Homo sapiens: one gene and its partner. The protein of the gene in region 1 binds, or shares a complex with, the protein of each later gene. Each region holds a gene or a part of one and is shown on either strand. Other genes may lie near its edges.

Region 1 (4,184 bases):
TGTGAACAAATTCCCTTCCATAATAACAGTTTCTCTATTTCCTGGCTGTGCTTGGCACTACAGTCCCATTCAGTCCGGTAAAACAGTGGTACGTCTTAAATGGATTTTTTTTTTAATTCTGGAAATGAAACACCTAGTACCTGCCCTTCCTCTTGTCTTTTATAGTGGTTTCTCCCTTTTGAAATACCAAAGAACTTGTCAGTAGGGAAGTAGGCAGGGTGGGCCAGTCTGCAAGAGGCCTGTGGCTGTCCCTATTAGCACCAGCAGGTGGCGCCACTGAGGACCGCTCCGAAGCGCTCTGCTCCTGGGTGCTTTCTCTGCGGACCAGTCCTAGAACTGAGGGTCCCACACTGCCCGCATCAACCATGTAGAGGCACCAGGACGGTCGCGTGTCATTAGGAAGAAGTGCTGTGTCATCCTTCACAGTACACTGGGGAGGGTTCTCCTCCTGAGGCATCTGGCACAGTGCACGGCTGGACTCCCAGCACACTGTGAAGAGGAGGAAATGATGCATGTGGGGGTCTCCTTCCAAGCCCTTCGTCTCTGGTCCTCCCATGCCCCACCTCCCAAAAAGCCACAGCCACATCTCTAGATTTTTTTTTGGTTTTTTTTTTGCTTTAGATGCTTCTGGTCCCATCACTGGGACCTAAAAGAAGCTCACATGTGGTCTCTGGAAATGCTGAAGCTGTGGACTGTAGACATTATTTTCAGTCCTTGTCCTGGTGGCTGCATACCAGATGCTGCTCCTTCCCTGTGTGTGGCCAGCTGTACACAGTGACATGCTCCCAAGGCCGCGGCACAGGCGGTGATGGGAACTCCTCCCCGGGCCAGCCTCTCAGGCTGCAGCCCCACGGCACCCTGAGGCCCTCATCTCTGCTCGGCAGCTAAAACATCTCCTTCTTCGATGCTCTGCAACTGCAGCCTCTGGCTCACAAGAGTTCTGCTGCCTCGGCGGCCCCCGAAGCCGCCCCCCGGGACAGTCCGTGCTGTAACCAAGACCCCTGGCAAAGCCTCCTCCCCAAATAAGTTGATTTTGGCTTCGGCCTCAATGGCTTTGGCCAAGCTTGCTGCGTAACTGTCCAAGGACTTGTGTACTTCAGCTTTCACATGAAGAATCGAGTTCTTGGCAGCTTCTGAGGGAGAAGGCAGAAAAAAAAGTCAGCTGAGGAGCCAGGCCTGGGGACTACCTTGGGGACAAGCCTGCTGCTGCTCCACCACCCCGGGGAGGGAGACAAACCGCAGTTAAGGGCGTGGGTTTCAAAGTTCCATTCCTAGACCAAAAGCTGACTCCCTGACTTCCTACCTGGGAAATCTTGGAAAAAGTATCTAATCTAGCCTCAGTTTCCTCATCTGTAAAGAGAAGATATTAAGATACCTCTTACTCCAAGAAGTTACTGTGATAACTAAAGGAGATAATTCTTTCTAAGATGTTTGGCCTATGTCTGGCCCATAGAAAAGACTTGATAAATACTTTCTACTAATGCTAATCAACATTTTTACATCTTTGAAAGAGTATTCTGGTCTTTGAGCTCCCTGAAGCAGTGTAACAAAACTTCCACAAACCCTAATGTCATCTCTCTCCTCTCCATATTTGCTCAGAGATTCCCCATGCAGAACCTCAAGGTTGGACGTGACATTACAGGTTCAAGCCCCCTCCCAGGATTAGGAGCCCTAAACTAAAACGAACAGAAGTGAGAGGGGGGAGCCCTTCAATTTCACACCCTGTTCCCTGTTATTATTAACTCATTGCCTATTTTCTCTGGACATTTCAGGGGAACAATTTATCCTCTCCTCCTTACATTTTCTGGAAAGTAGGCAACCTGTACCCCACTCTCCAAGAGGGAAAGACTGGAGGGACCTCCAGCCACTCTCTGCCCTGCCACTCACTCATGGCAGGGGAGGACCCCCTGGCAGTGCCTTGCTCTTGCACCACCTGGAGGGTGCCTTTGGAGCTGCCACACTCACAAAGCAGGACTGATGGGGCAAGTGTGGCCCTACGTGGGCTGGGGGGTTGGGGAGCATTTAGTTCATTTTTTCCTATAGAAAGGCAATATATTATAAAGCCCATGAGGCTGCTGGCCCAAGCTCTGTTCTATAATCTGCTTTGCCAGTGAAGCGAATGAACTGTTTTCCACCTCTGACCTCTGTAACAACCTCTCCATTCATTCTGAACTCAGGGAGGGGTGTGGAGAAGAGATGTGATTAATTATGAACCTAAAACTCTGACAGAGGCCATATTTATTTCCATATTCAACATTTCTGAAGAGCCTCCTTACATCGGACAGCCCCTGGACTCCACCAAATCCACAGCCCAGTCATATTGGTATCTGGATGGCTCTTGTCACTCTCCTAATCAGCATGTCTGGATGGGAAACGAATTCCAAGTTCCAGAGTAAACAACAGTCCCTGGGGGTGAGCGGGGAAGATATAGAGTAGAAAAATGTAGGGATTGGGCTGCGGCAGAACTCATTCTCCTCACAGGACCCAAGGGCCATCACCGCTGTAGGAGCGACGGACAAGCAAGATGGCAGCTTTGGCCTCCAGCAAAGCAGATACACTCATTGGGCCATTATCTCATTTTCCACAGGAGGAAACTGAGGCTCAGGGAAAGCAGGTTCAGTTATAACCATACCTCACCCAGGATCTGGGCTGTGTGTGTAAACACGTGTGGGTGTGTGTGTGTGTGTGTGTGTGTGGAGTTTGACAGCCATTGTTTGCCCAGCCTTCGATGCTGCTTGCTCTGAGAACTGGGTGCCTAAGGACTCAGGTGAGACCAACAGGGCTGGGAGTAACCAGGGAGTGAGCAAAGGGATGGAGCCCTGATATATTCCGGGATGGGAGCCAGCCTGAGCCAAGGAATTGTCCTAAGATCCTTTCCGTTTCCCTATGTTTTCTTGAAGCAATCAGTCACAGAAGCCAACCTTTGATTTGTTCCACTTCATCCTCAAATGTCACCGAGCTCCTTCTCTTGGGTGGGCAAGTGCAGTGAGAGGGAGGGTTGTCATCAGACGTGTAGTCCTCAAGCAGCATCATATCTGTCCCTAAAACAACGGGCAGATTGTGCATATGTAACTACAATCTAAAGTCCTCCTGGCCTCTTCTCCCCTCTCAACACCCCTTCCACCCCTCTTCTCCCGTTCATCCAAACCCATCATCAAGTGGAGCTGACTGCGCCGCAGCACGTGCCCAAGAAACACCCGCCTGTCATCCTGTTTCAGGGAGTTTGCAGACAGCCGGTGGGGCTGCGTCAGCCACACAAAAAATGCAGCCAAGTTATCTGAAGTAGGGGGTTATCTGCCTCAATGACCAGACCCCAGAAGCATGGCATCTGCCGGCCCAGCATGGAAGGGAAGTGGGGAGAAGGGCCGAGTAGAGGAGAGGGTCCTACTAAAAGGAACTTTATATTCTGAGTGATTCTTCCTACAGTCTGAATTTCTATCACCACAGTTAAAATATGTTGTACTAAATAAACATGTAAAGCTCCAAAATGTAGAGTTCTTTGGGGATCAAAAAATAATTGACAAATTTTCCCCTAAAAAGCAGGGAAATAAAGGGAGAAGGTCAGGGAAGTCCTACTAGAGATAGGTGGGCAGAGCAGGCAGAGGGAATGGGGCAGAGGGAAGGGAGGGAAGGAAGAGCTGAGATGGGACCCATCACTCAACAGTGCCCTTCCCCAACACTAGGACCAGTGTCAGATCCAGCCCCGTTCTTAGCTTCCAGCTTTCAATCCATAAAGGCCTTGAAGCTCAGAAAATAAGGAAGAAAGAGAAACCTGGAGCTCTTTAGATGCTGTTTCAGAGCACCTCGCAGAGGTGTGATTACCCGACATAGAGAAGAAACAGTCCTTTGGGAGGTAGAATATGGTGGTTAAACACACAGGCTTGGGTCGGACAGACCTAGGATCACTGGCAGGTTATTTAATGCCTCAGTATCTTTCCACGTCTGTAAACCTGGGGTCATCATTCAGTCTACCTCACGGAGTTGTGGGGATTTTGAGTTGAGACATGTAAACATCTAGCATAGTGCTTGCACACAGCAGGGGCTAAATTGAGGGCCATCATTCCTGATAAGGACACAGCGAACAAAGGGCAGGGCTGAGACTCACACCAGATCTGTGTGCCCCGAAGCCCATGCTCTTTCTTCTGCCTACAGTGCTGTCCCCTCACTCCTTGCGCCGGGGCACC
Region 2 (3,500 bases), on another chromosome or scaffold:
TAGGAACATAAAAGTTCAGATGTTAGTAGGACTAATAAAAAGTTATTGTTCTGATACATTTTTAATAGGCTGCTGTTTCCTTTTCCTATTAAATATAGAATCATATTTCAAGAAAGTCAGTGGGTTATATTATACATATTGTGTTTATTGCTTTTTTTTCAAAATAATGCTATTTAAAAAGTTTAGCTATCCATACTAACTATATACCACTAAATTTCTCCAATTTAAGTTTGCAGCCAAGTCCATCTAAAATATACAAACACAAATTCCCACGAAAGCCTGACAAAAGGCAACAATAACTCATTGTTTTAGCTGTAGACAAGTCTCTTCCCTGTGGGTCTTACAAACGCATACATCTTTCCATCTCGTTTCCCGTTCCCCGCTTATAAGCCATTCTCCCCACGAAGGGGCCTAAACTTATATGCTTGGGCTTGAACAGTTTTTTGTTCCCTAAAAGTAGTTCTTTAGGGAGCCAACAGTGTCGTGCATCCAGAGGAAAGTCTTTTCCATATGTTCTATTTTATGATTTTTGAGTTATGATTTAGATATATTTCATTTTTTTTAATAATGAGAAAAGATTTCATTTGCCCCAAGGACTTTAGAAAACTCTTAATAAAAAGGTCACCTGTTTAAAATGAGAATGTCTTCCATTTGGCACTTCACTGAGGCATCCCAAGGTACCTTAGGGCACTTCCAGTGGAGTAAATGGACAATTAGTATTTGTGTGCCATATTTAACATACAGTTTTGTCCTAAGATGTGAATGAGGGAATAATTAAGCCTGCCATAGCTCAGGACCTTTTTCCTCATAAAAATTTACAATCTAATAAAGTGAGATTGTAGTATTCAAGAGTGATGTTTATTTGTGAGGACAGGTGAGCTAAGATGTAGAAGGGGTGACAGAATTTTGCTCATCCATCTTGAACAAAGCCCTAATGATTATTATTATTAAATTAAGGTTACACATGAAATTAACTTTTTCCTAAGGATGGACATCACTGAAATGTAGTTTTGCCTGAAGTGTGGTTTGGATGCTCCTGCCCATGTGCAGGGCTGTCACTCATGTTCCTATATGGACACTGTGCTCAGGTGGGCGGGGCTAAGGCCACACAAGTCGGGGTGTAGCTTACGGGAGGGAAGTCAAAGTCAGGCACGTTCATCACACTCAGGATGTAGTCCACTCTGAACTGGTTCTCGGGGTTGGCCAGCTCCACGGGGGGCACCAGGTTGCTCATGGCGGCCACAATGGTCTGAAAATGATTTAGCAAAGCGGTCAGGGAACAGCACTGGCTGGGAGGGCGCTACAAGACAGACAGCACAAGGAGCCAGCACGTACTTCAATCGCCTCTTTCAGGTTGTTTTTGATGTCCTGCACTTTGGTTGCCTTCTCACTGCAGTGGGATTGAAAAGAAAAGAAAATCATATTGCACCATGTCAGTTAGGAGTACTGCTTTCATAAAGACATCCCGACTAAAAAGCATAGTATTCTGTTCTTCAGGGAGTTGTGGGTTCGGATCTGTGCAAAGATTGGAGGTAGCTGAATAAACATAGTTGCAAATTATAACCTCCCAAATGTGCCCTGAGGACACGCCCAATCGGGGCAGATTAGCAAATTGCCTTAGCAATCATGACTGTACCAGAAGTTGCATGCAGCTCATTTAATCTTTCATGGGTTTGAAGCCCCCACACTACATACTAACACTTCCTAAAGGCTTCTCCTGGTCCTATCAACATCTGGGTAGGGGTGAGGCTGGAGTGATAGGTCACTATGAGGTTGGGGTGGAACAAAACAGTCCCATGGTTTGACTTGGAATTAACTCAGTTGCTAGCATACTGAGAGAACCAGTGAGCACAGGTGGTGGTGTTTATAATAGTTCATTACAGGAGCCCGGGTGCGGTGGCTCACACCTGTAATCCCAGCACTTTGGGAGGCTGAGGCGGGCAGACTGCCTGAGGTCAGGAGTTGGAGACCAGTCTGGCCAACATGGTGAAACCCCGTCTCTACTAAAAACACACAAAAAAACTAGCTGGGCATGGTGGCATGCACCTGTAATCCCAGCTACTAGGGAGGCTGAGGCAGGAGAATTGCTTGAACCCGGGAGGCGGAGGTTGCAGTAAGCTGAGATGGCACCACTGCACTCCAGCCAGGGCGAGAGTGAGACTCTGTCAAAAAAAAAAAAAAAAAAAAAAAAAAAAGTCGTATGTGCGATGCTCCAGGCACTGCAGCTAGCAGCAATGAAACTTCTAGTTCATGATGTTAGTGCATGTTGGTCCATGTGCAATAGGAATCAAATAAGATTCCACCCCCTAGAAGGCCTTATAATCTAAGGGGGAGGGGAGGTCAGATCCCTCTGGTAAGTAGAGGTTGAAGGTTTTGTAGCTTTTCCTTGAGTTTAACTCAGCCACATGGGATGGCCTGCGTGGTCTTTATGGAATGATCTATATTCAGGGTCACTGGTCCCACAGGTAAAGGACACACCCTTTGGCTTCTGGGGACCATAACAGAATGTTAATTTTTGTACCACATTACACTGATCCAAATGCTGTATGTTTTTCAGAAACTAGCCTTCATTAGAAGCACAGCCAGGGAAGGTTCTCGAGTTTATGTTTTTAGAGGGCAAGAAAAGGCCTCTTGTGTGGAGTATGTATCTCATCAGGTCTATAGCCCAAAAATGGAACCAGCACACACAGCACACCTGCTGTACCTGTTAGGCCCTGGGAGGTGAGGGCGTTGTCATGCGGAAAAAAGGTGCTACGGTCCTGCCTCTCTGACAGGGAAACTGAGGCCAAGAGGGGGGGAGTCACCGAGGCAGAAACCAATGGGAGATGGAGGGGACAGAGTTTATCTTTTTCACGGTTTGTATATATATATTTTTTAATCTTTTGAGAGTCCCAGTTTTTGAAGCATTCACTTGGCTGATTCACCAATTCATAGACTGGAGTAGAAATTAAAACATATAATCTCTCCAGACTAGAACACGACAGTTAAGGCAGAGGAAAGGCGAAGGGAGGTTAATTAGCAAGAGCAGACGAGCAGACGAGCAGGGCAGGGCAGTCAGTGGAGCAGCAGGGGTGGGGGGCGGGGACGGACGGTGGGGTCAAGTGCGGGCCTGTCGACAGGCCTTCCACAAATCATTTGGTCTTTCCTTTCTCAAAGAATTATACTTACAAATTTATTCTTTCTGAATAAATGTCTGTGTACTTCTGGGCCTTCACCTGCTGAAGGATCCCATCTCGCCCCCTTCCTACGTGAAGCCCCTTTCACAGGTCACTGCACCACTGCTCTTCTACATTGGGTGAAGAGCTGGGGAAGTTCAGAGGGGCCACGCTCATTAGTGGTGGGGGGTGTCTGGGGTGGGGAGGGGGGACAGATGTTGCCAGGAATCCCCTCAGGGCCATTTAAGTAAAAGTGCTGCAGGTCCGGAGAATCTCAGAAACACAGATGACAGGGAGGTGAGCGAGCTTCAGGCCTTGTGTACAAATCTGAAATCTGATTCTGGC

What was found. The genes of interacting proteins can lie anywhere in the genome.
Region 2: the proteins of GPR161 (region 1) and GNAS are in contact, whole or in part, in a cryo-EM structure (PDB 8SMV), measured with the Homo sapiens proteins. Residues at the interface, in NP_001254539.1 of Homo sapiens: Arg125, Ala128, Val129, Leu130, Pro132, Met133, Met137, Ile211, Val214, Ala215, Lys218, Ala219, Lys267, Ala268, Thr271, Ile272, Trp327; in NP_000507.1 of Homo sapiens: His41, Lys216, Val217, Phe219, Phe376, Cys379, Arg380, Asp381, Ile383, Gln384, Arg385, His387, Leu388, Tyr391, Glu392, Leu393, Leu394.

Annotation. Positions count from the first base shown.
Region 1 is NC_000001.11:168,084,664-168,088,847, forward strand, and holds part of GPR161 (G-protein coupled receptor 161), read right to left. Parts: intron 3,042-4,184; coding exon 2,922-3,041; intron 1,134-2,921; coding exon 868-1,133; 3' UTR 1-867. UniProt on the Homo sapiens protein: Key negative regulator of Shh signaling, which promotes the processing of GLI3 into GLI3R during neural tube development.
Region 2 is NC_000020.11:58,901,421-58,904,920, reverse strand, and holds part of GNAS (protein GNAS), read right to left. Parts: intron 1,394-3,500; coding exon of another isoform or gene 1,391-1,393; coding exon 1,336-1,390; intron 1,250-1,335; coding exon 1,130-1,249; intron 1-1,129. UniProt on the Homo sapiens protein: Guanine nucleotide-binding proteins (G proteins) function as transducers in numerous signaling pathways controlled by G protein-coupled receptors (GPCRs).